Homo sapiens: one gene and its partners. Changing the gene in region 2 together with the main gene of any one other region gives a genetic interaction. Each region holds a gene or a part of one and is shown on either strand. Other genes may lie near its edges.

Evidence for each region.
Region 1: changes in EED (region 2) and ARL5B together harm fitness more than expected from each alone (negative genetic interaction), as found in Homo sapiens cells (one large-scale study listed by BioGRID).
Region 3: changes in EED (region 2) and MTF2 together harm fitness less than expected from each alone (positive genetic interaction), as found in Homo sapiens cells (one large-scale study listed by BioGRID).
Region 4: changes in EED (region 2) and HDAC8 together harm fitness more than expected from each alone (negative genetic interaction), as found in Homo sapiens cells (one large-scale study listed by BioGRID).

Annotation. Positions count from the first base shown.
Region 1 is NC_000010.11:18,672,931-18,676,430, reverse strand, and holds part of ARL5B (ADP-ribosylation factor-like protein 5B), read right to left. Parts: intron 2,448-3,500; coding exon 2,296-2,447; intron 1,264-2,295; coding exon 1,215-1,263; 3' UTR 1-1,214.
Region 2 is NC_000011.10:86,258,253-86,261,752, reverse strand, and holds part of EED (polycomb protein EED), read right to left. Parts: intron 1-3,500. UniProt on the Homo sapiens protein: Polycomb group (PcG) protein. Component of the PRC2/EED-EZH2 complex, which methylates 'Lys-9' and 'Lys-27' of histone H3, leading to transcriptional repression of the affected target gene.
Region 3 is NC_000001.11:93,113,783-93,117,282, forward strand, and holds part of MTF2 (metal-response element-binding transcription factor 2), read left to right. Parts: intron 1-905; coding exon 906-1,001; intron 1,002-1,205; coding exon 1,206-1,306; intron 1,307-1,687; coding exon 1,688-1,836; intron 1,837-3,500. UniProt on the Homo sapiens protein: Polycomb group (PcG) protein that specifically binds histone H3 trimethylated at 'Lys-36' (H3K36me3) and recruits the PRC2 complex, thus enhancing PRC2 H3K27me3 methylation activity.
Region 4 is NC_000023.11:72,461,344-72,464,843, forward strand, and holds part of HDAC8 (histone deacetylase 8), read right to left. Parts: intron 3,389-3,500; coding exon 3,216-3,388; intron 760-3,215; coding exon of another isoform or gene 756-759; coding exon 661-755; exon of another isoform or gene 1-660. UniProt on the Homo sapiens protein: Histone deacetylase that catalyzes the deacetylation of lysine residues on the N-terminal part of the core histones (H2A, H2B, H3 and H4).

The sequences.
Region 1 (3,500 bases), on a different chromosome or scaffold from region 2:
CTTTTTTTAATTTTAAGTTGTTAAGAATATTAACTTTGAGTCTCCTATTAATATTCTAAAAGCTAGGATTCAATTCAGCAGTTTCCTATAACATTTTAGAACCCAAGGCATAACTACAAAGATGGCAATTGTTTCAAGTCTATTACATAATACCGTCAAATAAATTCAAGGAAAGCCATGTAGTTTTTTAAGTAACATACTGCTGGTAGTAAAAATGCTATGACAGACACGACTTCAAATTTTAAGAAACAAAATGGACTGTTCATACTTCGGCTTCAGCTACTGCCCAAAGCAGCTGTGATATATCTTGCAAAGAAAAGAGCTAAAATTTCTGTTGATAATAAAGTTGTTTGTAAACTGATGCTAAAATATATTCCAATTGTCTTATTTTTAGTGCTGGTATGATTTACTAACTTCTGATAGTTTTATATGCATTGAATAATGTGATATTCTTAAAATAACAGATTTATTCAAGAATATTTAACATCAAAGTTGGGCTTTCAAATAAATATTTTACCTTGGTTAGTTTTTGAACAAATGTTGCAGGCAGAAGAGTGGACTTGATTCCTTTAGATAAATAAACAGCCTACTTAATTTCCATGCAAATAACAACTTAAACATTATTCCATGACTCAACAGTAATGTGGGGGAAAGTTAAAAGGCAAGTACTCATGATGTGGAATCTTCCTTACATATATCCTCTAGGCAGATTTCTTTCTTTACAGTAAGTTCTGTCCGAAAGATGAATGGTTTATAGAGGGAACAAATATATTTAGTGCTGGAGAAGTCTGCAGGCAGTACCTGATGGTTTCCAAGACTACTCTATCAAACCAGTAATTCTCTGGTTGGGAGGGAGTGCTGGTCAAGAATTGAAAGCAATTGGTCATTAAGGTTATAAGAATATTTCAGAAGACATCACGCATATGACAAACATTTCTTACAAGGCAGTCACTGATTAATTAGAATAAACAGAAGAATTGTTGCTGAAAACATAGTTATACATTACATTCATCCAACTGAAGATTAGTGTGTTAAAAAAAAAAAGTTAAGAAAAAATCTTTTATGTTCCAGTTCAGCTGCACTTGATTCAAGTGTTGCTCTCAGAGGTTTGTGTTGTTATAAATTAAACATGCTGCTGCCTTAGCAGCCAAAGGTACTAGGAAAAAATGTTCATGTCACAGAATAAATAGAGCAGTCTCTTTCAAGCAAAAAAGTTATCTCACACCAATCCGGGAGGTCATCCACTCTAGACCTTGGCATAACCTAAACAAAAGATAGAAGTATTTTTAATTAAAAACCTTATACTTAAAAACTGAAAGCGTACTTATTATTTTTAGGTCTTAACCAAAGGCTGGTAGCACAATCATTATTTATATACATCAGTGTCAACATTCAAGTCACACTATAATAAGTGAAATTTTTAAATGGAATGTTCTCTTAAATATTCTTAATCAGTTTGTGGGAAATTGCTTCAGTCTCATCTTGAAGATACAACTTTGCCAGTTTTGCCATGAAGAGTGCAAATACTCCCCGCCTTTTAAAATTAACTGAAACTTAACGACTGGAGAAAGTCAATAGCAACTTCACCTTATCCTCCTCAATTCTAAAGAATGGAATACTTAGACTCAGTCTTAAAAGTATGAGTCAAAAAGGCCTACACACAGCTATTACTGCAAGCTATTTCTGATAAATACTAAGAGAAAAACTAAGAAGGTGAGGTTGATTTGAGGATAAGTTCTCTGATATAAACAGGATAATACTTAAATAACATTCGGTTCTTCTTGGCCTAATACCCACATTCAAATTGTTAGAGATGGAAGAATAGACCATGTGGCATTTGTCTCAACTGTTTATTGTCTGGAAATATGCCTCCCAAAAGACCTCCTAATAATAAAGAAGACATACTCTTGCAGAAAGCTGAGAGCTCAGGTTTAAGTCCTTGCAGAAAATGTGAAATTTCTTTCAAGCTTCCTTTTTAAAAGAAAGGTGACATTACAGTTTTTTTCTCAGTATATGATAAAGGCAACAAAGAAAAAAATTTGGATTATGAAAACTCAATTCAATAGTTTATTGCTTTTTGGTAAAACATTATATTTACATTAAAAGTTTTTAAGTTGCCAGTGATTTTACTAGAATTATTTCTAGGTTGTAAGCCTGAGACACATTATAAAAGTCACCTTTAATTAAGAACAAACAAACAGAAAAGGAACAGGACCCATGAAGAAAACAAGTTGGCCTAAAAAGTTGGAAGAAATTTGAAAGAAGTCATACCTCCCCTCAGACGGATGAACTTACCCTTCTCCTGTGAGAGCACAGCAGGATTGAATGTGCCATGGATGATCCTTAATTGAACTAAGGGTGAGGTATTTCGAGATTTCAGCTGCTGTCATACACCCTTTCATATCCTGTTTATTTGCAAAGATAAGGACTGCAGCCTTCCGTAAATCCTGCAATCAAGACAAAATATTTCTAATATGTGAAATACCACAATTTAAATTTACCCAGCTGAACAGTTATAATGAAGTGCTTCTACTTTAACATAATCGGGCACTAGTATTTAACATAAAAATAATCTCAAATACCCGTAATTTCATTATTCATTCCAACAGATTAATATTAAATAATTATTTTTTATTTTTGAGTCGAACTGGTCAAACTGAAAAAAAAAAATACACCTGAATTTTAAATACTGACTCAAAAATACATAATTAATATTCTAATAGGCAAATATGGTAGTATGTTGCCAAATACTAGAGTTTATCCAAAACTTAAGAGTACTGGTGGTGGGAGCTGGGCAATACTTATTACTTACTAGTCTTTGTATAACATAAGGTCATTGGTTAATATTCATTTCAGCATTGTTTATACTATGAAAACATTAGAAGAATAGATTGTGATATACTCATACTGTGGAAAACTATACAGTTGTTAAAAGGAATGAACGAAAGCAGTACATATTAAGATGGATAATCAGAATATATTATCATGGATAAGTCACAATGTTGTACAAAAAGAGCAAGATTCAGAAAGATATATATTATATAGTATAAGTTTGAAAAACATGGAATACAGGCCAGGCACAGTGGCTCACACCTGTAATCCCAGCACTTTGGGAGGCTGAGGCAGGCGGATAACGACATCAGGAATTCAAGGCCAGGCTGGCGAAGATGGTGAAATCCTGTCTCTACTAAAAATACAAAAATTAACCAGGCGTGGTGGCGGGTTCCTGTAATCCCAGCTACTCGGGAGGCTGAGGCAGAGAACTGCTTGAACCCAGGAGGCGGAGGTTGCAGTGAGCCAAGATCGCGCCACGGTACTCCAGCCTGGGCAACAGAGCAAGACTCCGTCTCAAAAAAAACAAAAACAAAAACAAAAAACAAAAAAAAAACCTTTCAGTTATTGAAACTTTTGGGGAAAAGACCCTTAAGTTTTCCTTTTGCTTATCTCAATTTATCAGACTTTTAAAGGCATGCTTAAGTAACTTTAGCTTTGAAAAATTT
Region 2 (3,500 bases):
GCCATAGCTTCTGAAGGTACAAGCAGCAAATCTTGGCAGTGTCCATGTGGTGTTAAGTCTGCAGATGCAGAGAATGCAGGAACTGTGGAGGCACGGCTTCCTCTCTAGATTTCAAAAGACATCACAAAGAGCCTGGGGCTCCAGGCAGAAACTTTTCAGAAGGGCAGAGCCACACAGCAGTTCCTACTACAGCAACACCTGGTGGAGCCATGGGGAAAAAGCCATCCCCCAAATCCCAGAACTGCTGAGCTACCAGGGCACACCACCAGCCTGCAAGAGCTGCAGGCACCCGACTCCAACTCATAAGATGCTATGTGGGCTGCACGTGGCAAACCCATAAAGATGGGGCTGCCCAAGGCCTCTGGGGCCCAAACTCCACACCCAGCATGCCCAGAAGGCAAAACATGGAGCCAAGGAAGATTATTCTGGTGCCTTGGATTTAATCTTGTTTGTTCTGTTGAGTTTTGGATTTACTTGGGACCAGTTACCCTTATTCTTGCCTATCTCTCCTTTTTGGAAGGGACTGTCTATCCTATGCTTATCCTACCACTGTATTTTGAAAATAGATAAGATGCCTGATTTCCCAGACCCACAGATGGAGAATTTACCTCAGCAGGAATCCTGCCTTGAGTCTCACCCATATCTGATTGAGGATTTGAATTTTGGGGGCTAGAGGCAGAATGCTACAGCTTAAATGAACCCCCGAAAAAGCAGGTTGGGAAACTTAATCCCAATGCAGCAGTGTTGGGAGATGAGACCTAATGAGAAGCGTTAGGTCATGAGAGTACCACTCTTATGAATGAATTAATTCCAATTATATATTAAAAAAAAAAAAGGCTTCAAGTTCAATTTCTTGTTCTTACTTTCTAATGCCAGGTTAAAGTGGACTAAGACAGTAAGTTCAGAAATATTCATGTGGTCTGAAAAATATTTTAAGCATATTTATCTCAAATAACTTTCTTTAAATAACCTAATTTGATGGAAATATACTTTTGAAATAAAATACAGATTTGACATAAGCAATTTTATCCCACAGAACAAGATACTAGCTTTTCCCTTCACCATACTCACATTAAAAAATTGAAAGGGGACTGAGATTTATGATTTTTACAGTAAGCTGAAAACATAACTACATATATCATGCACAATTTTATAGAATGACAGTCCCTCTTCAAAAATTATGCAGCTATAATTTGAGCAATGTTATATTAAACATTAATAAAGAATGTACAGCAGTAGCTCACACCTGTAATCCCAGCACTTTGGGAGGCCAAGGTGTGAGGATCTTTTGAGGCCAGGAGTTTGAGACCAGGTTGGACAACATAATGAAACCGTATCTCTACAAAAAATTTTTAAAAATTAGCCAGGCATGGTGGTGTGCACATGTAGTCCCAGCTACTCAGAAGGATGAGGTGGGAACATTGCTTGAGGCCAGGAGCTCAAGCTACAGTGAGCTGTGATCACATCACTCTACTATAGCCTGGTTGACAGAGTGAGATCCTGTCTCTAAAACAGTATTTAAAAAAAAGAAAGAATGTAAAGCAAAGACACGTCATGTAAGCTTGAAATATAACAATGTTCATTCTGTCTGTGAATATAAATGCATCACATAAACACCCCAGAGGTAGTAATACATGTGAAAATTAACAGTGCTGTAAAAATGATTCCTTGATTTCAATTTTGTACAAGCTTTTGTATGGACATGTTATTTCTGTTGGGGATACATATGTACACCCCCACCCACACAACCCTAGGATATACATACATATGTAAACATCTAGGATTAGTGACTCTGTAACATTTTGAGGAACTGCCAGATTGTTTTTCAAAGTAGTTACATTTTACATTCCCACCAGCAGTGTCTGAGAGGGCTCTGATTTCTTCTTGTGCCAGTCAATACTTGTTAGTATCTAACGTTTTTATTACAGCCACCCTAAGTAGGTGTGAAGTGGTATTTCATTATGGTTTTGATTTGTATTTCCTTAATGATTAATATGTTAAACATCTTTTCATGTGCTCAGTGGCCATCTGTGTATGCTCTGTGAAGAAATGTCATTCAGAACTTTTGGCCATTTTTAAATTGGGCTGTCTTTTTATTGTTGAGCTATAAAAATTCTTGATACACGTCCCTTATTAGCTGGGAATCATGGCTCATGCCTGTAATCCCAGCAGTTTAGGAGGCCAAGGTAGGAGGACTGCTTGAGGCCAGGAGTTTGAGGACCAGTCTAGGTAACACAGGGAGACCTCATCTCTACAAAAACATTTTTTACAAAATTAGCCAGGTATGGCGGCACGTGCCTGTAGTCCTAACTACTTGGTAGGTTGAGGCTACAGTGAGCCATGATCACACCACTGCACTCAACCTGGGTGACTGGGCAAGACCCTGTCTCCAAAAACAAAAAATAAAAATCAAAGTCCTTTATCAGAATGATTTATAAATATTTTTTCTCCTTTTGAGTAGGCTTTTTTACTTTCTTGATAGTATCACTTGGAGCAAAATTCTTATTCATGCTCAAACTTCTGATTTTTAAAAATGCTCTTACTGACACAATAGAGGAAGACCAGGGTTAAAAGTTGTGATGTTGGGCTGTGCGCAGTGGCTCACGCCTATAATCCCAGCACTTTGGGAGGCCGATGCGGGTGGACCACCTGAGGTCAGGAGTTTGAGACCAGCCTGGCCAACATGGAGAAACCTCATCTCTACTAAAAATAAAAAAAATTAGCCAGGCATGGTGGAGGGCGCCTGTAATCCCAGCTACTCGGGAGGGTCAGGCAGGAGAATCACCTGAACCCAGGAGGCAGAGGTTGCAGTGAGCCGAGATAGAGCCATTGCACTCCAGCCTGGGCGCCAAAGCAAGACTCTGTCTCAAAAATAAATAAATAAATAAATAAATAGAGGCAGGACGCAGTGGCTCACACCTGTAATCTCAGCACTTTAGGAGGCTGAGACAGGCGGATCAACTGAGGTCAGGAGTTCAAGACCAGCCTGACCCATGTGGAGAAACCGTATCTCTACTAAAAATACAAAAATTAGCCGGGCATGGTGGTACATGCCTGTAATCCCAGCTACTCGAGAGGCTGAGGCAGGAGAATCTCTTAAACCCGGGAGGCAGAGGTTGCAGTCAGCCGAGATTGCACCATTGCGCTCCAGCCTCCGCAACAAGAGCGAAACTTTGTCTCAAAAAAAAAAAAAAAAACCAAAAAACAAAGAAAAGAGAAAAAAAAAGTTGTAATATTTAGAACAAGTGAGGCATTACGGTCTATACAGTTGTTCAGAAATATCTGAGCCCCAATTAGTGTTATCAAGAGACAAGAAAAAGTAATCAACTCTTCCTAGAGGTAGTGATTTCCAAAATGCAATGCTTTCCCTTTATGGGAATATTTCAAATAACTTATCCTGAAAAACGTAGCATTTTTAAGAAATTCTATAGGAAATCCTTTATAAAACAAAAGCTTTTTTAAAAAATAAAAAAGCAATATGAATTTTCATATGTAGTATT
Region 3 (3,500 bases), on a different chromosome or scaffold from region 2:
TTCTCTATAAATAGTATATTTATAAGTTAGTTGTAGAATTAAACAAAATATATCAAGATCCTACACAGTGCTTGGCCCATAGCACAAAATTATAAGTTTTTATTGTTGTTATGTATATAAAGGCTGTGTATTGTGAATTTGACTCTGCTGAAACAGACAAGATGAGAATACTGGAAATGATAATGTGTTAGGGTGGTAAATTGTATTAGAAATTTTGTGTGATTTTTTTTTTTTGAGAATAAAAATGTCTCAGGAAGAAATGCTTCACTTGTTCTGCTAAAAAAAATTAATAATTTTGGGACCCCCAAATTTTGTTGAAATGATATTTTGTTAGGGTACATTATTGGATACCATATTTTCAGATTTCAGAAGCTAGAGATTAAATAATTGGTGTTCAACCTGTTTAATAAATTAGTAAGTAAAAGGAAATGCTCTGAATTGAGCGAGAAAGAGGTAGTTTACTTATCTTCCTTACTTTTTTTCTTTAATTTCATGGTATTAGTGGTGTAGGATAAGTGAATGTATGTACATGAATAGATAAGTATTCTATAAAGTAGCTCTAGTGTTCACAAACCTTCTCTATCTGCTGTCGCCCATCCCTCATCTCCACCTTCACCTTTAAGAGTGGGAATATGAGAAATGAGTAATAAGGGAAGATGCTCAAGAGCAATTTAAATTATGCCTTCTGCCAAAAAGCAGATTAAATTATGAAAGTAGGCATGTTAAGTTAAAGGTAGAAAGAACACAGAGAGCAGAGAGATACCATTCGTGTACTTTGTCTTGTGAAGCATTATGATGTACTTAGCAAACATTGCGCATATGTGCTGCTCACTGAGTCATAAAAGTGGTTTTGTTTTATGGAATTTTTTATGACTCTCTTTTTTAATGTGTTTTAAATATTTTAGGAGCCACTGGAAGTGGGGAAATGGTCTGTACAATATGTCAAGAAGAGTATTCAGAAGCTCCCAATGAAATGGTTATATGTGACAAGTGTGGCCAAGGTAACCATTGATTTCTTTTAATCTTGTTACATACTGAATGACTATGTTGAAGATTAATGACTAAAAATACTTTACATTGATAATTTGAAATTATCCTTTTTATTAATTATATTAATGTAGGAAATAATGCTAAAATGCATTCTTGAAATTGTGTTGAAAGTATTAATGAAACCGAATTTGCTTTATGCTTTTTTTGATATTAAGGATATCATCAGTTGTGTCACACACCTCATATTGATTCCAGTGTGATTGATTCAGATGAAAAATGGCTCTGTCGGCAGTGTGTTTTTGCAACAACAACAAAGGTATATTTTAAGTGTTTTGGGCTAAAGCTCTGATGGAATTTGTAAGACATTATCAACATAATGATTGTGTACACTGAAAGTTTGTTGGAATGAAATGAGCAATGAATGCTGGGTAGAAAGAGGTGCTATTTATTTGACTAATGATGCTTAAGTGACTTTTTAATGATGCTTTCACTTATTTGATGATAGTAATACGGGAATTGGTGCAGTAATTTGAAAGAAGAAAAGAAAAATAGAGATTATTATTAATCAGACAGTTTGTGATATGGTAAAAGTTTGGAAAGGAAATTTCTCCAGAAGTGTCAGAGTCGTTTTTAAAGTATAGAATTGTGTTTAAAATTTTAGCCTTCACTCTTTCACATTTTTTTCCCTCTAATGTAGAGGGGTGGTGCACTTAAGAAAGGACCAAATGCCAAAGCATTGCAAGTCATGAAGCAGACATTACCCTATAGTGTGGCAGACCTTGAATGGGATGCAGGTCATAAAACCAATGTCCAGCAGTGTTACTGCTATTGTGGAGGCCCTGGAGAGTAAGTAAATACAGTTATGTAATTCCCTTTAAGTAATTTTTATTTACTTATCTATTTTTCTTGATTATGGTGTGTGAGTGATGGTGAATTGCAACTGCATGAACACATCAGTGAAGAAAACCAGGGGGAAAATCTATTATTTTCATAAAAAAATAATTTTCATCTAGTTTTTGATCATATCCACACATTAAAATATTTGTATAAGTCTTATATTCTGGAAATTTAAAGTGAATTATAAATATTGTCATAAAATTAACTATTGAGGGAAAACATTTACTGCAGGGGCCCAGTATCAGTAGTTTCATTGGATGTCATATTTAATGTGATTGACCATTTAGAAACTGGTATATTTAATATTATAATTTAAATGGGAGAGTAAAAGACAAGTTTTTTAAGACATAAAATCAACATGGAACTTTTTCACAGATAGATTACTGCTTTCTTCTACGTATTTTCATTTCTTTCTTAAAGTGATAGGGCACAGATTGTAGTGCAGTGACATGATCATAGCTCACTGCAGCACTGAACTTCTGGGCTCAAGTTATCCTCCTGTCTCAGCCTCCGAAGTAGCTAGGACCACAGACACGTGCCACTACACCTGGCTAATTTTAAAAAGTATTTTTTTTTTTGTAAAGACAGGTTCTTGCTACCTTGGCCTCCCAAAGCTGGCTGGGTTTACAGGCCTGAGCCATGCTGGCCTGGAGTAGCATTTTTATTTTCTTCCAGAACTTTTTCTTTGCATATACAGTTTGGCCAGCTGTTTGGTGCAAGAGGCCTAGCTTTTGGCCTATCTTGGCTTTTGACATACCTTCCTAACGTTTGATTTAAATTTAGAGACTTGTGACTCTTCCTTTCATTTGAACACTTAGAGGCCATTGTAAGATTTTTTTTTTTTTTTTTTTTGAGACAGGTTCTTGCTCTGTTGCCTCGGCTGGAGTGCAGTGGCATGGTTATAGCTCACTCCAGCATTGAACTGGGCTCAAGCAATCCTCCCATCTCAGCCTCCTGAGTAGGTAGGACCACAGGCATGCGCCACCACACCCTGCTAGTTTTTTAAGTTTTTTTGTGGAAATGGAGTCTTGCTATTTGTCCACGTTGGTCTCCAACTCTTGGCCTCAAGTGATTCTCCTGCTTTGGCCTCCCAAAGTGCTGGAAATACAAGCATGATCACCACGCCTGGCCCCCACTGTAAGATTATTAATTAGCCTAATTTCAATATTGTGTCTCAGGGAATAGGAAGCTTGAGGAGAGGGAGAGGGATGGGGACTGGCTGGTTGATAGTAGTCAGAACACATGCAACATTTAGTGATTAAGTTTGCCATCTTAGGTGGGCACGGTTTTTGGTGGCCCAAAATAGTTATAGTAGTAACATCAAAGATCACTGATCACCATGAAAGATACAATATTAATAATAATGAAAAAGTTTGAAATATTATGGGAATTTCCAAAATGTGACACAGAGACATAAGGTGAGCACATGAACCTAGAAAAATAGTGCTAATAGACTGAATCAAGGTATAGCTCTGTTTGGAAATGGTGCCTTTTATTATTTTCCGATAAAGATAACCGTATCAAAGTTTGGAAATGGTGCCTTTTATTATTTTCAAATAAAGATAACCATATCAAAACCACATACTAGCTGGGTGTGGTGGTGTGTACCTGTA
Region 4 (3,500 bases), on a different chromosome or scaffold from region 2:
CCCAGACAGCTTTCCATGAACTTGTTTTGGGAAAACTAGAACAGACATCTTTGCTTTGGAAAACATAAAGCCCATCTTGTATGACTAAAGAAAATGGCAAGGGCTCAAATGACGTTTCACATTTTGGATGGTCCTATTCCAGCCTCTGTGTGCCACTAATTGCTAGAAAAACATCAGCAATGGTCTTTGTAGTGCTTGTGGGTTTCTTGAATTTTACATTAGTCAAAGAAAATTGAGAGATCAGGACTACCACCAAAGAACATGTGCCACGTACCACCTATGAAACTTCTTAAAAAAAAGATGAGAATCCAGCTTACACATTTTAAAAATAGCCCCTTCCTTTTTGAGGCTAGGGGATAAAAATATGCACATATTCCAAAGAATTCTTTGTGTGAACAGGTGACCCCTTCCCACAGTCTCTGTAATTAATTGAGAAATTAAAGTTGGTTGGCCTTTGAGATCTCTTGTAAAAAAACAAAAAGGCAGAAGGTCTTGGATATTTTGGAACAAGAGTCCACTATTCTGCCAAGACAGTGTGTTATTGTTATTGAAGTGTCTCTCAACAAAACGGTATTGAGTGGTGAGGACGTGATTTTGATTAGGTGGAATGACTCAGCTCTTCCCCTTAAAGAAGAGAGGACTTGTCAGAGCCTTACTTACCTCATGATCTGGGATCTCAGAGGATAGTGTTTTCCCTAGGATGACCCCGGTCAAGTATGTCCAGCATCGAGCCGTGTTGGCAAGGTTATAGCCTCCTGTCTCCATCAAGAATTGTGAAGTTAGGAAAGAATAGTCATAAAACAGCAGGAGAGGGAAGGGGGGTAAGGAAAGAGAGAAAAATGTTTTAAGAAAAGACAACCTCAAATTGCAGAATTTCCCCTAATCCCCCCTTTGTGATATTTTTAAACCACCTAGTAGGCAGACTTTGGTGGACCAGTCAAATCATGCACAGTGTAAAACTGGGCAGTCCAAGGTCTGCAAAGATTAAATAGGCTCCCATCTCCCCAAAAATATGTACCTGAGGAATCCAAACTCCTCAGTTCCATCAAGAGCCATCAGCAAGACTCAGATCTCTGGAATCCAGATCTCTTGAGGTGATCTACCCAATGGAAAGATTTCTGTGATGAATTTTGCAACAATTCTATAAAATGACTGCTGAATGTGATTTGTATTTTTAAAACTATTGGCAGATCTAGCCCTAAAAACCCAGGAAAGAGAAAAGGAAAATGCTGACAAAAACAGACTTCCTTCTTTTGATGTCAGCATTCCTTTTTGCCACAAAACATAGGCCTGGTGGCAGAGATCAAAGAGAGTGAGATGAGGAAGGGACCGTTGATGGATGCTCTGACCCATCTCGTCAGGTCCTGTCACAGTCACCCAACGGCCATATTATACTGGCTAATAATCAGCACATTTTTGTGCTGAATAGATGTGCTCTGCCATGCAAGCATTAGAACATTGGCCTTTAGCTAAATTCTAAGAGTATAAGGGTAAAATGGAATGATTTCCTAATCTCAACGCAGCCTAAGGGAAACAGAATCTGGTCTATTTTAGATAGGGTGACCATATAAATTATCATACAAAATGGTATACTTTTAAAAGTAAAAGAGGGCACTATTAATCATTACACTGGGATAACATGTATAAACTCGGACATATGGTCACTCTTTTCTTAAGCTTTTCTACTATTTGAAAGGTCACGGATGCTTTGACTATGTCTTTTAGGTCTCAATGGGGTCCACTGAAGCTTGGGGATGTGGCTCCCTCTACGAATTGTGTGTTAATAGGGCTGAGAATTTCAGTTAGATAGTACAGGTATTACTTTAAATACTCCTGACACGGAAAAATCTGACTTTATAAGATAGACTTATTCGGCATGAGTATTTAATTTCAAAAAAAGGTCACTATAGGTTTTGCTTAGGTAGTAAACTATCTCTGGTACATATACAATATGATTTGATTTGCAAAAATTCCATTTATGCACAAGCGTTTTCAGGAATACACATATTTCCTAAGAAGACTTATATATTCAAATGTCAAAACTTTGGGCTGAGAAAACAAAAAGGCTTTAGAGAATGCTAACAGGCTTTTAATGTAAAGATTATAGCCTCAAACAAAAGTCAGGTTCTAACCTGATGTATATGGTAGAAAGGTCTCTTCCCCCTCCTTAGCTGTACCTGTATCATAATCACCATCCTTAGTGCTGTCAAGAAAAGTAATATGTCACACAGTACTTATCAATTTTATCTTTTTCTTCAGTTGAAGTTAATATATTTCTTGCCAGCTTTTCATAAGAGGTTGTCTCTTGTAAGTACCTTTAATTTTGAGCCTTCTAGAGTTTGAGGCTGCCAAAGGACAAGGCTTGTGTACTTGTGTTGAATGCCCACTCATTTAATAAGGCCTCCCCACAATTTCCTCTAACAGGTTGACAAAACAACCAACAATTAGCTCTTCTATAATATATGCATTTTAAGCTCAATCTGCTTGACCATGTTATTTTAACACACCAATCTATTCATCCAATGAAATAAAGATTGTGCCAGGTAGGTAGACAGAAGATTTTAAGCAAGGCATCTTTAAAGGTGGTAGATGTTGTGACAAGTTCTTTTCTCAAATGTTTAAATGCTACTATTGAATAGACCGGGCTTTCTTTTGGCTAAGTAATACAAATAATCAGCACACACCAAAGGCAAGAATGCCCAAGAGACTATAGATCTCTCAATTTTGCTTCACTGTAACAAATCCATGCTTTTTGGGGGAAGAGGCATTCTTGAATTCAGCTTATTTAATTAATCTGTGTGTTTACTACTTACATACAAGTAGAGTTGGAATTTCAGTGACATGTTCCCAAAAGATGATTATTAGAACTGAAAATCAAAGACTACACTGAGAGAAGGTGGATCAAAGTCTACCGGGGTTAACATCCTCTATTTTTAAGATTCGAGGTAACCTTTAACCAGAGGATCTTTGCTTCAGGAATTGAAATTTAGACTTTAGAGTGCCAAGAAGTCAATGCACATGCTAAGCTGAGAAGTGTGTCAGAGTATTTTCTTATTCTGAACTGTGGAGGTGGCAGATTTTATTGACTCAGGCTTCTGGGCCTCAGGTAGGTTGGTATTATCCAATGCAAGAAAGCCAAGTTTTCCAAGTTCAGTGCCAATGGACAAAATGTGGAGGAAGGTCAACAAATTCTGGTAACCTTCCTTTATACTCACCTCCTCCCAAAATGAGTGTTGCCAACTGCCATTGAAGGATGTACTTAAGACACTTGCCAATTCCCACTGGAGTCATGTTAAAGGAGCACATGGGATCCCCAGCTATTGTGTCAGCTCCCAGCTGTAAGACCACTGCTTTGGGATTAAAGGCTTGGTATACTTCCTTTAGTACACTATATAAAATAGAAAGGATACAAAATATAGGTCAGTTTGGTCTAGGGGTAGTGGTGGTGGTAGGGCAAGTTGGAGGTATAATTGAATTAGCAAATAGTTAAGGGAAAAAAA